Linked DNA regions of Homo sapiens. The protein of the gene in region 2 purifies or fractionates together with the protein of the main gene of each other region. This does not show direct contact. Each region holds a gene or a part of one and is shown on either strand. Other genes may lie near its edges.

Evidence for each region.
Region 1: the proteins of PAH (region 2) and USP19 purify together in Homo sapiens (affinity purification with western blotting; 2 studies listed by BioGRID). This does not show direct contact.

The regions. Positions count from the first base shown.
Region 1 is NC_000003.12:49,107,501-49,111,075, forward strand, and holds the end of USP19 (ubiquitin carboxyl-terminal hydrolase 19), read right to left. Parts: coding exon 3,450-3,575; intron 3,364-3,449; coding exon 3,211-3,363; intron 3,105-3,210; coding exon 2,944-3,104; intron 2,863-2,943; coding exon 2,684-2,862; intron 1,686-2,683; coding exon of another isoform or gene 1,458-1,685; exon of another isoform or gene 1,173-1,457; intron 1,029-1,172; coding exon 912-1,028; 3' UTR 550-911; downstream 1-549. UniProt on the Homo sapiens protein: Deubiquitinating enzyme that regulates the degradation of various proteins by removing ubiquitin moieties, thereby preventing their proteasomal degradation. Stabilizes RNF123, which promotes CDKN1B degradation and contributes to cell proliferation.
Region 2 is NC_000012.12:102,906,944-102,914,244, forward strand, and holds part of PAH (phenylalanine-4-hydroxylase), read right to left. Parts: intron 5,956-7,301; coding exon 5,848-5,955; intron 1-5,847. UniProt on the Homo sapiens protein: Catalyzes the hydroxylation of L-phenylalanine to L-tyrosine.

The DNA.
Region 1 (3,575 bases), on a different chromosome or scaffold from region 2:
TCAGACAAGATTCACTCTGGTCCTCTCTGCTTGTCCTCTTTTCAGGGCAGCAAGATCTGCCCCACAGCAGTTTTCCTCCTGCTCTGTTACCTGCAGGGATGCAGTTAGTGTTCAAGTTACAGCAAAGAAAAAGCTGAGGACAGGAGAGGAGGAGGAAGATCTCCCAGTACTTCTGTCCCCCAAGTCCTCCCTGACTTGTCAGCCCCAGGCTGCTCTGGTGAATGCACCTTTTACTCCACGCTGTCAGCTCCAGTGCTTCATATACTCCTCTGTCCCTTGGCTATATTGAGATCCTGACGATGCCTACCAAGCTGCCTCTTATGTAGGATCCAGAACCAGTGGGATGAAAGAGCAGCAGGTAGGCTCCAAAAAGCTGATAGCACTGGGGGCTTCATGACCCATAGGACATGAGCTGGGACCCCATCATCTCCCTTCAGACTAGGGCACTTTCAGGGTCTCTCATATATAAACACACATACACACACATACACACCGCAAATGATGGGGAGGGGAGGTGGCCCCAGCATGTGGTGGATCACAGTCACTAAGTCTACTTACTTATTATTTATTTTTAAAATATATTTAAACAGCAGCAGTCACTTCCAAAATGCAAAAAAAATTACAATTTTTAGAATAAAATTATAATGTTTATAATGCGGGTCAGAAGAATTGAAGGTACAACAGAATCAAATCACGCAGCACTGGAGGCGGCTGGAGAAGCCAAAGCCCACTGGTCAGGGGTCCAAGCTGACAAGAAGTCCCAACCTGAGAGGTCTCCACACCCAAATCATACCCCTCAGCTTCCCATTGACAGAGCCAGTGTCCTCTGGGTTAGAGAAGGAGAAGCGGCAAGGAGCTGGCCCTCTGTGTGGGTGTCCCAAACCCAGTCCCCCCCATCAGCCAGGGACCTGCTAATCCACCTCCTCCATGTTGCTGTAGGTGGGGGCTGGCCGATCCACAGGGGGGGCGAAGCGTTCAGGGGCTGTCCGCGTGGGGGCCACCTCGGGGGCCTGGCCAGGGCCTAGTCCCTGCAACAGAATACGAGGACAGGGGTTGGGGGCTGCCCAGCATGCCGCCTGGCATCCCGGGGGTGCTGGCTTGGAGCCCTGGCACCCAAGGGAGGGTCCCAAGGCAGGCGCAGACAGCAGCGGCGTTGAGACAGAGAGACGAGATTGGGCCTGAATAGTCTGGTTTTATTAACACTTTTAAGTACAGGAAGTAGCTTGGGCAGGGCCAAGCCTGAGGCCAAGGGTCAGAGCAGCAGGATGAATGGACAGACAGCCAGATGGATACACACCCTAGGATACTCTGCCCCTGCAGGGGCCACAACCTCCCCACCCTCTCCCACCAGATGCATAAGCTGAGGCCCAAAGCCCAGAGGTGTTCCCCACAACAAAGGCAGGCATGGCCTGGGGCAGGCAGGTAGGCCAGCTCACAGCAGCTGCCTGCAGGCGAGCTCATCTCCAGCGACTCTGGGATACCAGAGGATAGAACACGTTGAGCACGAGGGCCACCAAAGCCGCCACGGTGCCCAGGACAAAGTACCGGAGGCAGCCCTCATCTGGTGTGGTAGGGCCACGTGGTAGGGGGCCCACCCAGTCTTGGGGCCCCCAGGGACCCAGGGGCCCAGACCCCTCAGGCACCGGCTCCTCCTCAGCCTCCAGCTCCTGCCAAATCCGGGAAGCCTAGGGTATGTGGAAACGGCCATCAGCACCCCGGGGGTGGGGAGGACCCAGTGTCCCTGAGACCCTTAGCCATGACAGTCCCACCTGGGGTGACTGGGGCTAACACCCTGCATTCTAGATCAAACAGCAAGGAGGAAGGCAGGCAGCCAACCTCAGGGCTGTCCAGAGTAAGAGCACAAGGGTAAGAGAATCTTGACAGCATTTTGGCCTACCCTAAACAGCTCTCAATCCACATGCAGCTCCGCATGGAGGTGGGAGGGGAGTTATCTGGTTAGTATTTCAGTCCAGGCCTCCCCAAAGGACACCGATTCATAGAGAACAGGACTGCCAATCCCAGAGCAATCTCCTTGCTCCTTCCCACCCATACCCAGATCCTGACCAGTCTTCTGCAAGGATTTCTCTAAGCTTGACAGAGAAGGCTCAAGAGAGGATGGAGCCAGAAAGGAGACGGCCAGTCCAGAAAAGAGATGTGCCTACGCCCACTAACTGGGCCTATGGCACACCATGTCACTAAAGAGAAGATCCTGAAGGCTCAGCAAAGACAGATGCTTACCTCAAAGAGTATAACAGCCACCAGAGGCCATGGCCAGCCCAAATAGGCCTTGTCTTGAGTGCACACTAGAACTCAGGGACATCACAAGTGAGGGTGTGTGGGCCAGCATGTGGGGAATGTGCAGAGGAAATCTAGGAGAGTGTCAGGTATAGTTCATTCACAGCATAGTGCCCAGTGAGGTTCAGAGCAGTTGCCTGACCTGTGCCAAGTAGGTGCCAATGTGCTTGCCAGTGGCAGCATGTTAGTGTACTTGTATGTTTGTTAGTGTCCCCAAGGCATGGGGATGCCTCTGGCTAAAGCTTTGATGTTAAGAGAACTCTGCAATTCTCATGAATCCCAAGGCTCAATGGGCCTGTGGCTGGAGGAGAGGAAGCTATATCCCCCAACCCGGCCCCAGTCTGTGAACTGTCCCCCAGTATTCTGTAAAGCCTCCCACATGCCTCACCTGGCTGGCAGCAGCCTCAGCTGCAGGGCCTAGGTCTGGGTGGTGCTCAGAGTGACCTGCCCTGGGGGGCCTCTCCACAGGAGAGTTCCGCCGGCGGTAGAAGAGTACATAGGCATAACGCGTCACAACCTGGCTCTCGTCTACCGTTGTCACTGTGCTGTCATCAAACAAGCGCCAGCCTACAGCAGGGTGGGAAGAGTGTGAACAAAGTCTGCACCACCACCCCTACCACCTATCCTGCTGGCTGTGTGTGCCCTCACCCACGTCACTGCGCTGACTGCTACGATCATTGGGCAGGCGTGCACAGGCAGTGTAGTGGCCACCAATCATGCCTCCATAGTGGTTGATGACAGCATATAGATCGTAGCTGGGCAGCTGCTCCTCTTTCTGACCAATGCAGAACTTGCTCAGGTCCAGGTTCCTGCAGGTCAGGTCCAGTCAGGGAGGGGTGAGACAGGCAACAGGCGCTCAGGATGCCCATCCTGGTCCTCACACCCCACCCACAGTTACCAAGGTCCACTGCTTACCTAACAGGGAACTCCACCAAGTCATTGATCTTGTCACGCCAGATAAAACTACGAAAGGAGAAGCGCTTGAGCTGCACGATGAGAACATTTGGCAGGCGCCATAGCAACAGCTGCTTGGAGGCCTCACGGTGCTGTTTGCACTGTGGGCAGTACCTGGTGGGGACAGAGATTGGGTCAGGACCAGCAAGTCTCTCTCTTCTCCATCCTGCCCCCTTATCTACTTGCTGCTCTGTTCTCACCAGGCCTCCTCGGGTGCCAGCACCTCAGGCCGTGTGAAGAGGTTGAGGCACTGGTCCAGGGTGAAGTGGCCGGCCCGGGCAGCCTCACCGGCAGAGCCTGGATCCTCAGCACATTCCAGCTCCTTG
Region 2 (7,301 bases):
AAACTCATAATGATGCTGTCTTGGCTAGAAAGTTTGTAGAATTAGAATGATCAGGATAGAGGAGAGATGAGAAAAGACTGTAGCTTTATCTTCTAATTTTTTTCTTAAGAAATGATATGTTAATTTGTAATATTTGAAACTGCAATGACACAGGAAAAAATGAAAGTGATATGTCCAAATGTTAACAGCGGTTGATAATAGATGGAAGGAATATTAGTAGTTAATTGTCTTGCATTTAAATGCATTTTTCAATATGAAAGAAAAAATACCCAGAGACAGGTACTTTTGCCCCCTCACCCCAAGAATGAGAGACTGGGACCAGGATATTTGCATTTTTTAAAAAACTCCAGAGTGATTCAGATGTTCAGGGATAGCTGTATTTGGCAGAGGTGTGGGGTGTAATAGAAAGATCATGGGCTTCGGAATCTGAGATTCAGAGTTCAATGCCATTTCCACTGCACATTAGCTGTGTGATCTTGAGCAAATTACTCAACCGCTCTGAACCTCAGTTCCCTCATCCATAAAGTGAGAGTACCACCTTCACTTAGTTTAATGCGGATTAAATGAAGAGTCATATGTGCCCAGCTCATTGCATAATGCGGTTCCACAAATACTAGAATTTGATTCTCTCTCTTAACGTAGCATCTTTTTCCTTCTTTTCTTTTCTTTTTTTTTTTGTGGGGAGGGAGGGGGCGGACAGAGTCTCACTCTGTTGCCCAGGCTGGAGTGCAGTGGGGTGATCTTAGCTAACTTCAAACTCTGCCTCCTGGGTTCAAGCAATTCTCATGCCTCAGCCACCTTAGTAGCTGGGATTACAAGTATGCGCCATCACGCCCAGATAATTTTTGTATTTTTAGTAGTGATGGGGATTCGCCATTTTGGCCAGGCTGGTTTGAACTCCTGGCCTCAAGTGATCTGCCCGCCTTGGCCTTCCAAAGTGCTGGGACTACAGGTGTGAGCCACCATGCCCAGCCTTAACTCAGCACTTTGAGTGATTTTAACATTTTGCCAGGCTGTTACTAAGGCGAGAAGTATACTGGCCTATACAATTTATACAGCAACTTCTGAAGTATGTTTGGAAAAAAAAAAATCAATACTCACTAACAACCCTTCTTCAATCACCCAATACAGTGACCTCTGTTTCCTCTTCTGTAAAATGGGTGTAATAACATCACTTACTGACCTGTGCAGTTGAGATTCTGGATAATGCTTCAGAGAGTTCACCCAGAGTTCACATACATGCATGCGCCCCCCTCCCTACCACCCCCTGCAGCCCCGACACACACACACACACACACACACACAAACACACATGTCTTGAGTGCATTCCATCCAATTCTGGTAATTTAGTTACTTGTCGTTTATTTATTAGGTTGAAAACATTCTGTTCATTTACTATTATTTAATCTATTAACTCTGACTTAGGCCTAAGGGGCAACCTCTCAAGGAGAAAATGCTGATTATCTAATATAAAAGCTAAAAAGTTACATAGGTGCATTTTACAGATATATTCTTTCTCATGGACAGTTTGTTGCTCAGAAAATGCTGTCTCTCTTCTCTACACCCATTGCTCGCTTGCTCTCACTCAGACATACATTCTCCTCCCCCAGGTTTAATTTTTTAAGGCAGTTTTTAAAGAATAATTTTGATTTATGAAAAAATAGAAATGATAGCACAGAGTTTCCACATAACCTGGACTCAGTGTCCCCCATTATGAACATATGAACATCTTACATTAATGTGGAACATAGGTTACAATTAATGAACCAATATTGATGCACGTTATAAACGAAAGACCATACTTTATTCAAATTTCTTTAGTTTATATCTAAAGTCCTTTGTCTGTTCTAGGATCCCATTCAAAATACCACGTTACATTTAGTCCTCATGTCTCTTTTTTTTTTTTTTTTTTTTTGAGACAGAGTTTCACTCTCGCTGCTCAGGCTGGAGTGCAATGGCGTGATCTCAGCTTTCTGCAACCTCTGTCTCCCTGGTTCAAGCAATTCTCCTGCCTCAGCCTCCCAAGTAGCTGCCACCATGCCCAGCTAATTTTTTTGTGTTTTTAGTAAAGACCGGGTTTCACCATGTTGGCCAGGCTGGTCTTAAACTCCTGACCTCAGGTGATACTCCCGCCTCAGCCTCTCAAAGTGCTGGGATTACAGACGTGAGCCACCGTGCCTGGCCCTAGTCTTCATGCCTCTTTAAGCTCCTCTCGGCTGTGACAGTCGCTCAGACAGTACTTGTTTTTGATGACCCTGAGAGTTTTCAGGAGTAATGGTCATGTATTTTGGATAATGTTCCTCAATTAGGATTCATTTGATTTTTTCTCTCATGGTTAGATGGAGGTTATGGATTGTGTGGAGGAAGACCACAGGGGTAATGTGCCATTTTCATCCTACCAAGAATGCATACCATCAACATGACATCACTGATGATGTTAATTTTAATTTTAATTTTTTTTTACTATTAAGGAAAGGTTTGTTTTAATATTCAGTTTCTTTTTGAATAATGTTGATTTTGGTCACATGGCTGAGGTGTCTTTGTCATATTTCTCCACTGTAAAGAAACTCTTCTCCCCCTTCCATGTGGTACTTTTTGGAAAAAAAGTCACTATAAAAACCCACTACTTAAATTATTTGGAACTCTAAATAGGAGATCTATCTTTTCTCTACTTATTCATATATTTGATCACAAGATTTAATTATATTTAAAAACTCAGGGTAAAAATTAATTGGCCCTGGCTGGTAGCTCACGCCTGTAATCCCAGCACTTTGGGAGGCCAAGGCAGGCAGATGACTTGAGTCCAGGAGTTCCAGATCAGCTTGGGCAACATGGTGAAACCCTGTCTCTACTAAAATTATAAAAATTAGCTGGGCATGGTGGCATGTGCCTGTAGTCCCAGCTACTGGGGAGGCTGAGGCATGAGAATCGCCTGAACCTGGGAGGCGGAGGTTGCAGTGAGCTGAGATCGCACCACTACACTCCAGCCTGTGTGACAGAGTAAGACTCTGTCTCAAAAAACAAAATTAATTGGCTCAAAAAGTGAAAAGATACTTTTAAAATATTTTTTTAACTTAAAAATATTTATTAAGGTAAAAAATTTTCTTTAGATTGAATTTCATTCTTAATTGAACACAACATATATAAAACTCAGGTTCTGTTGAGGATATAAACATGACTGAGACAAGGTTCTCTTCTTGAAGAAACCATCCTCAGGGCTAGACATAATGTATATGCTGAGCACGCAAGGAAGTGCTGCAGTTAAAAGTAAGAAGTGCTTTGGGAACACTGAGAAGATTGTAATTAATTCAGGGAAAGCTTGATAAAAGAGGTCTGAGGTCAGGGCCAGCTTCTGGGATATGCAACCACTGTCATACCACAGGAATCACACTTGGGGTTTCATGTTCTTTGCAACCTCCTTGAAATTCCTTTTTTTTTTTTTTTGGGGAGGGAGTCTTGCTCTGTCACCCAGGCTAGAGTGCAGTGGCACGATCCGGGCTCACTGCAAGCTCCGCCTCCAGGGTTCACGCCATTCTCCTGCCTTGGCCTCCCAAATAGGTGGGACTACAGGCACCCACCACCACGCCGGGCTAATTTTTTGTATTTTTAGTACAGACGGGGTTTCACCATGTTAGCCAGGATGGTCTCGATCTCCTGACCTTGTGATCCGTCAGCCTCAGCCTCCCAAAGTGCTGGGATTACAGGCGTGAGTTGAAATTCTTAATAACGACTTTTGAATTTGTGTTTCATAAGCAAAGTCCAGTGGGACAATGAAGCACATGCTGGGTATTTGGAGACTCAGCTCATGTGTAATCACACCATTTGCCCTCTCCTTACCTTCTCAGCCATGGTTCTAAGGGGTTGCTTTCAAGCACGTTGGCCCTCTGGACCCACGCAGCCTTCCCCTCCCTGGTCTTACCTCACCACCACTACTGCCCTTTGCCCAGAGTCATGACCAGGAGGCATGGGCTTTGGGGGGAAGTTTATATTCTGCTGCCACTCTCCGCCAACCCTGGGAGATCTGGCAGGGGATTTGGTGGGTGATTTGGCTTCAGGCAAGCTTCCTTTCCATTCTCATTCCAGAGGTTACAATCTCTTGGGGGATAGCTCATCACTGTGGGTTGGTGCAGCAGGTCCACGGAAATGGAAGATGGATTTCCCCATCCTTGGTAGGGGCTTGGCTGTCAGCCCAGCCCTGGCTGGACAGGGAACCCAGCAGTTAGAGGGCCAAGGTGCCCAGGGGAGGAGAGCACAACTAAATGGCAAATCAAAAACACCATAACAGGACATGAGAGAGACCACAGAAGAAAGGATAAAGTTATATATTTTAGTACTTTTAACAGCATTATTTCCTGTTATTGAGGAAGAGACCCCACGTTTTCATTTTGCACTGCGCCCTGCAAACTATGAAGCCCGTTCTGTCTGGGGCAGTACTGAATAGCAGTTAAGAGTGTATGTAGGTTCTAGACTCAGAATGCCTGGGTTTAAATGATTTCTTCCGTATTTACTAGCTGTTTGACCTTGGGCACATTTACCTAACCCCTCTAAGCATCAGTTTCTATCTCTGAAAAATGGGGGCAGAAATAGCTCCTACCTCATGTTATTTTCATTAGACTGAATAAGATCATGTCTATAAAGCTACCTTTTACTGAGATAACTTCTCATGCTCTGCCTTCCCTCCCCAGCTGCTCAGAATATTTGCTTCCCCTGTTAGATCCTAAAGGAGGCAGTTTCTCTTCCTTACAATTTCTATGTGTCCCCCATCTTCCTCCCCACCCACAGTGCTGAGAACATCATAGGTTTTCACAAGATATCTAATCGTATCCAGTCATGCCCCAAAAGGATTTGTTGATTGCATGCCCAAACACACTGAGCACTAAGTATGTGCACAGCCCTGACCAATGTGCTACCCCTGCCTCCCAATCAGCTAGAGAGGTCACAGGAATCTTAGCATAAAGCAATGTATTTTCAGGTGGGACAAAATCCCACCAAAAATATTAGCATAGTACTCGGAAGGAATCTGGCTGAGGAAACCTATTTGGAGTTCTGTGAAGTTTGGCTGCCCAGCAAACACCCAAATCAACGTTTCCTAAACTCTGTTCCCAGATGTGAATACATGTTCTTAAAATAAAAAGGATCCACAGTCAAGTAAGTTTGGAAAATAATACATACATTTCTCTCTGTAAACAACTTAGTATAATTAGTTTTATAGACTCTAAAAGTCCTATAATAAAGAAATCAGGTAAAATAATATGCCCGAATTTCCCAAGTTTATTAATTATGGAACCACTTTAATCATAAGACATTTACCAATGTCTTGAAGAACATTAGCTATTTTCTAAAGCATAGTTTTGGGTTAAGCTACTTGAAGAAAGGGACGGTGTCTTGCATATTATTTTACACTTATACATAGAAGACAATCAATATTAATTTAGTGAATAAAAGAATTAATATTTATTTCTTGTTTACTCTTTAACTGTAATCACATGTGACACATGTGATTACATGTTATGTGAAATGTAATCACGTGTCACATATGACTTATAGTTAATCATGCCTAATCACACATATGATTAGGCATTTTACAAAACACATTATTTCATCACAAAGTTCCTGTTGAAACTGACAAGGCACATATTATCAGCACTATATTATGAATGGAAAAACTGAAGCTCAGAGAGATTGAATGACTTAACTAAGGTCACACAGTTGGTTAATGTAAAAACTTGAGCTCAAATTCAAATCTGCCTGTTCCAGATCCTGTGTTCTTTTCATTGCATCTAACTAGAAAAGAACATGGAAGTTTGCTACGACATTATCCAAGACAAACATGATTGTAGCACTGACCTCAAATAAGCGCAATACTTTGGCCAATGCACCAACTTCTTCTTTGAGTGAGAAGATCAGTGATATGGCACCATTTTGATTGCAGTTGTCTTCAATATAGCTTGTTTCCTACAGGATAAGATGCATTTGTTTAAAACATTTTCCACAGTTTAGCAATTCATTCCTGTTAAACCTCCATGGACAAAGCAAGCATGAACTCTTTCTTCTAGTTAAATCTTGCAATACAATGAGCTATATATATTCTATACAGAAATATGTAGTGTGGTGGAAAATAAGTAAGTCCAGGGCAATTAAATGATCAATGATGCTACTGGGTCAGTTATCAGCTTAAGGAATCTTCAATTATTCATTGATGTCACCATTCAATCCTGTAAATTCAATACCTTTTATTGAGCAACTACTAGGTTCCAGGCACTATTTGGGCTCTGAGAAATTTAAAGATGAATAAGACAATGCTTTATCTTTTAGGAGCTCACAATCTAACTTAATAGACACATATATAACAAACTGAAAGATCCTTAGAGGTGATATAATATGATTTATAAAATGTCCCAGAAAGACATTGAGAAATACAGTGTGGAAAGTACTAAAAATGGAACATGCACAGGCTTTTGAATCGTAAGACCTGGATTGGAATCCTCTCTCTTTCATTTTCCAGGTGGACTACTTTGGGCAAATCATTCAGCTTTCTTAGTTTTCTCATCCGTGAAAGCATGCTAATAACAAGATCTGTCAAAACAGTATTCAGAGGATGAAAAAAGGAAAAGAATAGTTTAAAAAGAATATTGAGAAGTATATAAAAATGATGGAAAATTATAAATACACAAAAATGACCTCTTGACCTTTGGCAAAGATCTCAGGAAGCATTAACTTGCTCCCATATGCTGAGATCTGAGACATCCAATTGTTGAAAAAGAGTTACAAAATCCATGAAAGTACACAAATAACCTATCAGAAAATAAACTTAGTCTTAAACTAAATCTCAAAGAATGTCCAGGATCTAGCACTTACTACATGCATGTGACAGAAAACCAAGGTTGGGGTTAGGGCTGACATTCCAGAGTTTGCTAAATCATTAGCCTAAGTCGAAAAATAATACATAAAATTCTATGTGTGTCCACAATAAGCAGCAGGTACCTAAAACTGGGAAGAAAAAAATTTGCAGAACAATTACTCTCTTGTAAGCAAGTTAATGAAATTAATGGAATAGATGTTACATCATCTCAATGAGAGAAGGCTGTGTTAGGAAACTCTTAGTGACTCAGAATAACAAGCCCTGCATGAATACTGATGACCCTTAGCAAAAAATTCTTTCAATTCAGAAAATTCAGATTTTTGCCAAAACATCCCATGAAACTGAGGTGTGAAGGAAAAAACAAATTTATCAGCAAGAGTGATTTTAGGGAGCTTCAAATGAAATGGAAGACTAAACTGTTAAATATCCCATTTTGATC